Regions from separate parts of the Homo sapiens genome. Here regions 1, 3 and 4 are each linked to region 2. The links come from fine-mapping of genetic effects on gene expression. A gene starts in region 2. Each other region holds a variant in brackets. All regions are shown on one strand. Distances are from middle to middle.

Evidence for each region.
Region 1: its variant is fine-mapped to the expression of CASC15 in testis (GTEx, PIP above 0.99).
Region 3: its variant is fine-mapped to the expression of CASC15 in nasal epithelium (TOPMed, PIP above 0.99).
Region 4: its variant is fine-mapped to the expression of CASC15 in adrenal gland (GTEx, PIP 0.96).

Annotation. Positions count from the first base shown.
Region 1 is chr6:21,897,356-21,900,042 of GRCh38, reverse strand. The region is part of intron 4 of CASC15 (cancer susceptibility 15); the gene reads right to left. Among named protein-coding and RNA genes, the nearest start is that of CASC15, 230 kb to the right of the region's middle. The variant T/C (reference allele first, on the strand shown) is at 1,365.
Region 2 is chr6:21,665,026-21,667,685 of GRCh38, reverse strand. It overlaps CASC15 (cancer susceptibility 15), which reads right to left and starts at 1,273. Exons shown (of 12, transcript NR_015410.2): 1 at 1,041-1,273. LOC124901483 reads left to right here and starts at 1,626. Exons shown (of 3, transcript XM_047419653.1): 1 at 1,626-1,634; 2 at 1,871-2,039. The coding sequence starts at 1,626. RefSeq lists a silencer at 1,714-2,008.
Region 3 is chr6:21,817,913-21,820,599 of GRCh38, reverse strand. All of the region lies in intron 4 of CASC15 (cancer susceptibility 15), which reads right to left. Among named protein-coding and RNA genes, the nearest start is that of CASC15, 150 kb to the right of the region's middle. The variant C/T (reference allele first, on the strand shown) is at 1,615.
Region 4 is chr6:22,150,512-22,153,198 of GRCh38, reverse strand. The region is part of intron 9 of CASC15 (cancer susceptibility 15); the gene reads right to left. Among named protein-coding and RNA genes, the nearest start is that of NBAT1, 4.7 kb to the right of the region's middle. RefSeq lists an enhancer at 2,041-2,687. The variant T/C (reference allele first, on the strand shown) is at 1,343.

The sequences.
Region 1 (2,687 bases), 230 kb before region 2:
CCCCATACCACTCCCACTAATCAGTTCTCCTAAAGGTCACCAATTACCTCCGTATCACCACTACTCACTTTTGTAAGCTTATCTTCACTTGGCTTCTCTGTGGCATGTGATACAGTTGACCCACCCTTTCCTTCTGGAAATTATCTCTTCCCTCTGTTTTCTGGACACGATTCTTCCCAGCAATCCTTCTACTTGTCTGACCACTCCTTCCTTATCGTGTTCTTAAGCAACACATTTTCTTCCCCAATTTCCACCCAAACAATGGCTATTCGATGACTGAATGAGCAATTAAGTAATATTTACTTTAAACTTATTTCACACATTGCCGGGGTTCTTTTGAAGTTTGCAGGTTCTAGAGCCTTCGGGATATAGGCTCTCTAGAGCTGTCACTTGAAAGTGAGGGTTCTATTTTATTTACTTTACACCTCTCAATGCCTACCACAATGTAAACCTCACTCTTGTTGCCTAGGCTGGAGCGCAATGGCCTCATCTTGGCCCACTGCAACCTCCGCCTCCCGGGTTCGAGTGATTCTCCTGCCTCAGCCTCCCAAGTAGCTGGGCTTACAGGCATACACCAACATGCCTGGCTAATTTTTGTATTTTTAGTAGAGACGGGGTTTCGCCACGTTGTTTAGGTTGGTCTCGAACTCCTGACCTCAAGGGATCCACCCACCTCCACCTCCCAAAGTGCTGAGATTACAGGTGTGAGCCACTGCAATCGGCCCCAATTTAATCTTAATATAACTTAATCCTCGCATTCAAACCTGCTTTTCCAGGTATATTCTTCCAGTTTTTACTGCCTAAAGCTCCCAAATGATTCAAATGTCAAGTTCACGCCAAGGCCAGTTAAGGGTCTAACATGGGTTCTAGATAATAGCTAAAACAGTAGAAAAATTGTTCCATTTCACTTATTGTGTATTTCTCAGATCCCTGCCAGGTCTCCCTGGCTTGGAACGGCCCCCTGAACTGTCTTATAGGAATGGCCACAGCCTCCTGCCCCTCCCCAGCAGTTGTGTCCCAACTGGCCTTTCTGCCTTCGGAGTGCCTCGTCTGTCCCAATATGAAGCATTAAATGAGATTCAAACATTCCGACAATGTTCCTGCATCTTCTAATTCAATTAGTTGAGCTAAATATGTAAAACCCTAATAACAGAAAATTAGAGGAAGCTCAAAAGGTGTATGCATGTTGGAGTCAGCTAAATTTTGATGAAGAGTAAATTAAGTTAGCTATAGATTAAATTCACAGTATCTCACTCACTAGGAAGTCACACAACACCATTGTTTCATCCTTTGTTATCTTCCCTTGAAGACTTTGCTTTACCCACAGTCCTCTGTAAATGTTCTCCATTGCATCCTTTTTTGAA[T/C]AGTACATTCTGAAGTCTACTTCTGATCTCTGACCTCACAGATGTTCTCCTATTAGTTCTATGCTCAGCATAACGGAATGTTAATAGGCTGTTATGACTTACTCTACAAAAATCAGTGGTCTCAATCCTGCCGGGTAAATAAGCTACTTTGGCGGGCACGGCTATCCACACAGCATTAGGTACCATTTGATAAGTCATAGCCTTCAAAGAACAAAAATTTATCCTAAGGAATTCAGAACTTTCATAAACGGATTTTTTGTTTGATTTAGATATTGAGACTAATTTTCCACCTCCTTCTACATACCTGAAAAATAGCAAGGTGGCAGATCCTGACTAGCCTATAATATGGACAACATCCAAAATATTGCACAACACTGAAAAGATAAAATTTCAACAGAGAATGATGAGTACTGAGTTATGAATTTTGGGACACAGTTGGCTGGTACAAGAAAGGTTTTTGTTTTGTTTAAGTCTAGGAATAAAAGTACTATATAACAATAATCCCCTGGTAGATCAAGCTAGGACTTTGAAAAGGCACATGGTGGAATTCAACATCAATTTTTCATAAAAATTATCTTTCAACAAATGAAAGGTCATTCTTTGATAATAGAAGTGTGATAGTACATGAGGCTGACCCAAGAAGGTATCAATTTTAAGATGCAGCAGATTTTTAAAAAGATCATCTTGCTTTGAAAGAATGAGAAAAGAAAAGCTTTTCTAAACTTCTAAGAGTTAGAGAAAACATATTTTCTTTTTTCCTGGGGTTATCTTGGATCGTATGTGTATTCACAGTTAAGGTTTTTTTCAGTGTTTTGTTTTGTTTAATACAACACATCTGTAAAATTATTACCAAGCCAGAAGGCTCTACTTTCTTTTTTTTTTTTTTTTGAGACGGAGTTTTGCTCTTGTTGCCCAGGCTAGAGTGCAGTGGCATGATCTCAGCTCACCGCAACCTCCACCTCCGGGGTTCAAGCAATTCTCCTGCCTCAGTCTCCCGAGTACTTAGGATTACAGGCATGCGCCACCACGCCCGGCTAATTTTGTATTTTAGTAGAGATGGGGTTTCTCCATGTTGGTCAGGCTAGTCTTGAACTCCTGACCTCAGATGATCCACCCACCTCGGCCTCCCAAAGTGCTGGGATTACAGGTATGAGCCACTGCACTCGGCCTTTTTTTTTTTTTTTTTTGAGACAGAGTCTCACTCTGTTGCCCAGGCTGGAGTGCAGTGGCGCCATCTCAGCTCACTCCTGCCTCCGCCTCCTGGGTTCAAGCAATTCTCCTGCCTCAGCCTCCTGAGTAGCTGGGATTACAGCCACCTGCCAC
Region 2 (2,660 bases):
CTCATTCGCGCATGACCCAACCTAGAAACATTCCTAAGTTAAGCTACTTAGGAAACAAAGTTAGGGCGTCTTCCTTAGCCTATAAAAACGGAGTGGACTGCGCTGCCTCTTCACCCCGCAGCAGCAGAAACAGCCATCCCTCTTTTGGACGGGCGTGGCAGATAGAAACAAAAGGTTAAAACACAAAAGGCGGGGCGGAAGGCTGGGTCAGAGGAGCTTCTGGGGCTCACGTTCTGCTTTCTATTCAAACACACTGAAGTGGGGTTGGGGGCGGGGGGTGATGGAAAGTGAGAGAGGTGAGGACGGATACCAAGGATTGCCTGGGTTATTCCGGGTGGATCGTGAAACTGAAAGGGGCGGACGGGATGGCTCTAACTAGTGGTCCAGGCCCCATCCCCTCCATCCCTGCATCTCTGACAGTCTGTAACCTGTGGCTTCCTCCACCCCATCTCAGCCCCGAAGAAAACTTTCTGAACTCTTAGCTGTTTGTTGTAAACCTCTCCTTGACCGCTAACACAAGGGACCAATCCCCTCCAACCCAAACCTTTCTTCCTTCCATTGTTGCAGCGTTTTTATATTGTGCGTGGTATCTACAGAGCGCTCTGCAGACAGCTAAGTTATACAAACGACCCCCATATCCATATCGCTTTCTTTTGCATGACCAGGGTCAGGGCTAGGGTGGGGGCGAGGCTGGACTTGACCCTCTCAATTTCTGCATATTCATCCCTACATGAGTGCAGCTGGAAGAACGCGAAGCAATACCCCCTCACCCCACCCTTTTGAAACCCTCCTCCCCATCCCCCCAGCCCCTCATATAAAGAAGCACATAAGATAAATGCCTACTTGGCTTTTGCCTATTAAAAATAAACAAATGAAACAATTGCGCGAGTTCTTTAAAGAACAAAAGAGAAGGGAACGGGGAAAGGAGGTACAATTTACCAGCCAAACTTTGCCACTGGGCTACTCCTCTGCCCTCCGAAGGGCGGGGAGCGGGGCGAGTTGAGGGGAGAGAGGTAAACAAGACAACAGTCCCCACTCACCTTCTTCCCCACTTCGTCGCACTTTTAAGGGACATTTCCCCCGCTGCAGTCCACGAGGCGTTCGGACACTTTTTCCCGGCCTGACAGCAGAGAAAGTCGGGGCGGCAAAGTTGCGAGAGGGAGATACCCCGGCGTCCGGGGGAGAGGGGAGGAAAGAGAGTTCATCAGAGTTCCCCCTTTTGTTCCAAGTCCCGGAGCAGACAAAGAGGCGGCGAGCGGCGGCAGGTTTCTCCCTCTCACCCCTTCTTCCTCTCTCCCTCCCCTCCCTCCCCGCCCCCTCCCTCTCCCCGCATCTCCCGCCCGGCTCGGGAACCTCCGAGGCGAGCTGGGGCTGCTCGGTCCCCAGTTCATCACAACTCTGCCCAGACGGTCTCCTCCCACTGCCAGGCTCGAAACTTTCCCCGGGAGATGCCAGCCCTGGCCCCCTCCGCACCGCGCACAAGTCTGGGGTGGTGGGCAGGGGATCTCCAAAATCATTGTTTCCCGGAGATGCACCTCTTTGTTTGCACTTTCCCTGCCAATCAATGTGAAACATTCACTTGGGCGTCGAGTTTCTGTCCATTTTTCGTCATCCCAAGAGACAAAATGCAAAGGGTAGGGGGTCAACCCTAGATAAAGGCGCTTACACAATCAGAGGTGGGGCGCAGGCTAGGCTCTTCATCCTCCTTCCTCCTCTCGGATTCACCCTCCTCCCTCCTCTCGGATTCACCCTCCTCCACCCAATACACAGAACAACTCAAAGGGGCTCCAAGTGTTAGGAAACTCCTCTCCCGCCCTTCCCCACCTACCCCCACCCACGCTGTCCCTCTGGAGAGCCCTCTAATTGGCAGGACAAAGGCCAGCTCCGGGTTCGGCCGGGGCCTCCGCCCATCCCTCGGGGCTACCTGTTGCTGCAGGCGCAGCGCAACTCGGTCCAGGGGCTCCGAGGAAGAATTCCCAGCTCCAGCATCGCGCCCACCTTCTCAGGCCCCGAACTTCCCCTAATCTCAAACTGCGAAGGCAAGGCTCTCAGGATGACCAGGCGCCCTCTGACCCTACAGCCAGGCGCTGCTCACTCGTCCTCTTCCCTACACCACGTCCTCGTGCTCACCCCAAAGATCTGACTCGGGGTCCCAGGCCGCCTCCTCATCCTCCACCCCCTGCCGCGACACGTCCCAGCCGAGCATCCCCTCTTTCCTTCCCCTCCCCCACTGCCTTGTCCGGGACAAATCAGGTGTCTCGGACCAGGAACAGCTCCCGACCCTTCCCCAGGTCCCTTCCAGTCATTCTCAACCTCCAGAATTGGGACCCCATCCACATGGTCCCCCACCCCTCGACCCTGATCCCAACTTCGGGCCATAGCATTAGCTCGCTGAGTGACTCAGAGCAGCACTCGTTTTCCTTCTAGATCCACTAGAATTGAAGAAAAAGAAAGCAGGGAGGTGGGGGAAATGGGAGAGAGTAGGGGCCCGCATGGGGAAGCAATTTCTAGGGCAAAAGAAAAAAACATTTCAATGCGAACACCCACCCTCCAGTTGGTATCCAGCCCGTCGCGCACCTTTGCCTCCACCCTCTTTCCTTTCTCCCCATCCCAGACTTGGAATCCTTTCGGGTTGGTGAAGTTTGGGGGTAGAAGGATGA
Region 3 (2,687 bases), 150 kb before region 2:
GCATCTACCTACACCCATCAATTGGCTCAATTTATTTATCTAATAGTATCTCTCAAGTCTAGTGAGATCTTTTTTGAGGTACTCTTCTCAAATGTTATTGATACCTACTGGGGTTGTGCTTTGCATAATCTTTCTTTTAAACATAGATTTTTTTTTTTTTTTTTTTTTTTTTTTTGAGATGGAGTTTTGCTCTTGTCACCCAGGCTGGAGTGCAATGGCACGATCTCGGCTCACCGCAACCTCCGCCTCCCAGGTTCAAGCAATTCTCCTACCTCAGCCTCCCAAGTAGCTGGGATTACAGACATGTGCCACCATACCCGGCTAAATTTTTTTTGTATTTTTAGTAGAGACAGGGTTTCTCCATGTTGGTCAGGCTGGTCTCAAACTCCCAACCTCAGGTGATCCACCCACCTCAGCCTCCCAAAGTGCTGGGATTACAGGCGTGAGCCACCGCGCCCGGCTTTAAACATAGATTTTTAAAACTTCAATTAGAAAATGGGGAAAAGACATGAACAGCCACTTCACCAAAGATGATATATGGATGGCCAAGAAAAGATGTTCGACATCATTAGCTCTCAGGGAAACACAAATTAAAGCTACAATAAGATACTCCTTCACATCTATCAGAATGGTTAAAATAAAAAATAGGCTGGGTGGGGTGGCTCACGCCTGTAATCCTAACATTTTGGAAGGCCGAGGTGGGTGGATCATCTGAGGTCAGGAGTTTGAGACCAGCCTGGCCATCATGGCAAAACCCCATCTTTACTAGAAATACAAAAAAAAATTAGCCAGGTGTGGTGATGGGTGCCCATAGTCCCAGCTACTCAGGAAGCTGAGGCAGGAGAATGGCTTGAGCCTGGGGCAGGGCCGAAGTTGCAGTGAGCTGAGAAAGCGCCACTGAACACCAGCCTGGGTGATAGAGCGAGACCCCATCGAAAAAAAAAAAAAGAAAGAAAAAAGCCAATTCCAAAAGATTATGAACTATATGATTCTATTTACATATATGAAGTTTATTAGAAATGGAGACCCAATAAGTAGTTTCCAAGGGATAAGGATAGGAGACTGGTGAGAAGAAACTGGGTACAGCTACAAAAAAACAATAGGAGGGATCCATGCTGTAACAGTTCAGCATCTTTACTGTAGTGGTAGATATACAAACCTATATATGTGATAAAACTGCACACAACTGAGTATACACACACACACACACACACACGCAAATGAGTACAGGTAAAACTATGGAAATCTGAGTAAGATTGGTAGATTACATCAATATCAATCCTAGTTATGATATTGTACTACAGTTTTGCTAAATGTTATCACTAGGGGAGACCAGGTAAAGCTACATTGTTTCTTCAGCTGATGTAAATCTACAATTATCACAATTAAAATTCTAACTAGCAAATAGATCAATAAAAAACATTTTCAACTTTAGCCATTTCAAAATAACAATGAATGTTACCTTCTTTCTTCTTTGAAACAGGACCACTCTTTTTTCTACACCACTTCTTATGATATAGCTTCCATTAAATACATTGTGAAAAACTATTAAATTTAAGCTTACGCATGAAAGAAGCCTTACAAAAGAGCAGAGATTATGAGACTTCATTTACA[C/T]GAAGCCCTAGAACAGGCAAATCGAATGGACAATGGGGAAGAAAAACAAAACAAAACAACACAAAACAGGTTGCCCTTGGAGGTGGTAAGGCAGTGGTTGACGGGATGGAGCAAGAAAAAACTAGCTAGGTGATGGCAATGTTCCATATTATGATAGGAGTCCCAGGGACACAAGGATATGCATGTGTCAAAACTCAAGGAATGCACTGGCTGGGGCGGTGGCTCACGCCCGTAATCCCAGCACTTTGGGAGGCCAAGGCAGGTGGATCACCTGAGGTCAGGGGTTCGAGACCAGCCTGGCCAACATCGTGAAACCCCACTGTACTAAAAATACAAAAAATTAGCCAGGTGTAGTGATGGGTGCCTGTAATCCCAGCTACTCAGGAGACTGAGGCAGGAGAATCGCTTGAGCCCGGGAGGCAGAAGTTGCAGTGAGCCAAGATCGCGCCATTGTACTCCAGCCTGGGCAACAAGAGCAAAACTCCATCTCAAAAAACAAACAAACAAAAACAAAACACACATACACACACAAATACACCAATAAGATATTTGTACTTCATTGTATGTAAATCTCATATTTTAAAAACTAAACAAAATTTTAATTCATCTTAAATTACTGACTTTATATCTGGTACATTCTTCCACTTGAAGATGCTATGCCGTAAGATACAATGCTTTGGCTGTATCCAAAGTCACCAAACTAAATCATTTGGGGGAAAAAAATCTCTTATGGGTTCTTCTCAGGGAAAGGAAATTCAACAGAGTAACCATGAAGCAAATTCATATAAAAAGTATCATTAAATCAAACTAAATTAAATTAAAACAGACGTAATTAGGGCTCTCTGAAAGTAGTTTTGGCTAACACTTTGTTTACATGCAATATAGATGTAGCAACTACTGACCTCAGGCACTTTTAGCTGCTGTTACATTAATTATTACATGTGCTTTTTATATTCCAGCTCAAAATATCCTTTAGAGTCTGACTAACTAAGGTCTTTCTGCCAAGGTTACTTCAAATGAATCTCAGGTCCCACAGAAGAAGGAAAAAAATCCTATGAAATCCACATACTGAT
Region 4 (2,687 bases), 490 kb before region 2:
ACTTGGGGTCTATAACCCACAGGCAAATCCAACCCCTTGCCTCTTTTTGTAAACAAAGTTTGATTGGAACACAGCCATACTCACTCATTTACTATTGTCTATGGCTGCTTTTTAGCTACACCAGCCAAGTTCAGTAGTTGCTATAGAAACCATACAGTCCACAAAGCCTAAAGTATTTACTATCTGGCCCTTTATAGAAAAACTTTGTTGATCCCTGCCCTATGCCATTGATACATCCACAGATAGAAGACTTCATTATTCCTCTTAACATCTGTCTTCTGGATACTCATCAATTCACTCATTCATTCATTTGTTAATCAACTAATGTCTGTGAAACATCTTCTGTGCCCCTGGCACACAGATGAAGAATGGGTTAGAGACTAGTGGGGAAACAGACTAAAGAATACCACCAGGTGATGGCTGGTCTAATAAGACAGGAGCCTGGTAAAAAGGAAGCCCAGGAGGCATCAGGCTGAGGGAATCAGATAAGGTCTCCGGCAGTGTACAGTTTGGGCGCTTCAGGTATTATGGTTGAGATACTATTACCCATTTTAACAGTGATGTCAAAAATCACTGGTTTACATTATGCTTTTATGACTTCACAAAAGGCACATTCTGACTTACTGATAGATCTTTCATATTATAAAAGTGTTGAGACAGTTTGGAAGAGATGTAGCTTCTCTGTGACATCAGGAGAGCTGATCATCTCCAAGCATCTGATAGTAAGGGCACCAGTTCTTCCCCAAAGTTGTAAGGACTAAGTAACATTAGGTGTCAGACAGAATACAGTCAGGGAAACTATTCAACACAAGATTCACCTGCGCTTCGTGGCCCACCACAATCAACTGCTTATATTCCCTTTTTTGTTTACCCACCAATCCCACCAAAACCTCATTGGTCTATGTTGAACCTTATAACTGGAGAAGTTAGCCTCCTGTGTGAGCAGAAAATAAATACCTAATAAATAAATGATTGATGCAATGAGTGAGGATGATCGCTCCTTTGGTGTTTTAATGAATGGCAAAGGATGAAATGAATACTATGACATACATTGTCTAAGTGAATATCTAGGATTCAAGCTTAAGTATAAGCTTAAGCTTAGCCAAGTCAGCATAAATGACATTTTAAAATATGCTTGCTTTGTTTTTGTTTTTGACTTATTGAATACTTACCTCCCTGGTAATGGATAAAAACAATGGGAAATTCTTAGCAACCTAAACAGCCAAATAAGACTTATATTGAACTATTATAATGTGATCAATTTATTTTTAATCAAACTATAAACATTTGATTGGACTGGGTACCTGGAAACAGGCTGTGCTTTACATACAAATTAGCCATA[T/C]GTTTATTAAAGAATGTTAATAAAAGTATGTTGACGTTTTTCCTTTCTTAAGTGATTTTAAAGTGACATTTTATTTCTATATATTTGCATTTAAATATTTAAATAATTGTCCATTGACCTAAGCAAAATAAATACTGCAAAAGAAAACCAAAAAATGTTCACTTATTAAAACAACAAAGAAATTGCTTCATTTCGGAAGGAGCAGTACCCCAGATAATCTTTTATTCAACAAATATAAATTGGCATTTTATTCAATTACAAAAGATTGCTAGTGTAGTTGGAAACCTTTACAATAAATGTTTGGGGACTCTCAAAGCCAGTGAGGGTATGATCGATCAATTACAACATCAGAATATATACTCTATTTTAGCTTGATAAGATTTATATGCTGAAATGTAAACACTCCTGGATTTAAAAAATGTATATATGATTGATAGATTTCTTGGCTCTGATAGCATTAGAGGATTTGTTTTATTTTGTTTTGACTGTAGTCTCCGCTATAAGTAGGAATCACTGTTTTAAAGCATTATGTATCTAAATAGTTCCAAATATTTTTTAAAATGTAAATGAAAAGAAAAATCTACACCTAAATTTTCTCTTGCCTTTTTCACGTGGGCAAAAAAAACTAATGTGACAAGTTTACAAGAATCTCTATTATTCTTTTCCTTTATGTAGCCCAGTTTCTTTTTTACTTGTGATATCCCAGGGTGTTCTCACGAAAATTAATTTCAAATCTAAAAGGCAAGGATAATCACTACTTTCAGCAGTAAAAGGTAACAGAAAGAAATTGCAGTTTAAGCACAGTTAGCATATAATTAAGAACAAGAAAAATTAAAGTATTCTTAAATATGTGTTGCTTTAATTTTTCTCCTGATGGCTTTTCAGATTACCTTAAAAAGATCTATCAAGACTCCTCCTCTAGAAAAGATCTATTAAAAGCCACAGACACTTGGAGATCCATGAGAAGGAAAAAAATGGGTCATCTTATACAGTTGATTATGTGAGTTGTCTACATGCAGTGCATATGTCAGCAACAAGGAAAACAACCTCCAGATACATTCTGCAGGCAGATTTTCTTCTGGAGAAAAACCTATGTTTTCCTATACATTGTGAAGCCAACAGGGTAGGGTAGGAGCAGTTCAGTTTCATCCATAAGCATCCACATCAGGCTGGTTTTTGAAAAGGGAGCCAAACCCACAATACCCCAGAAAATAATATTTTGTAATAACAAAAATGGTATATATATTTTTTTCCTATCTAAATCTGGAATCCTGACCACCTTGTTTTAAACAAGACAGAGATTGCAAGCTTCAATCTGTTTGGATAGAAAAGAATTTATATAAAT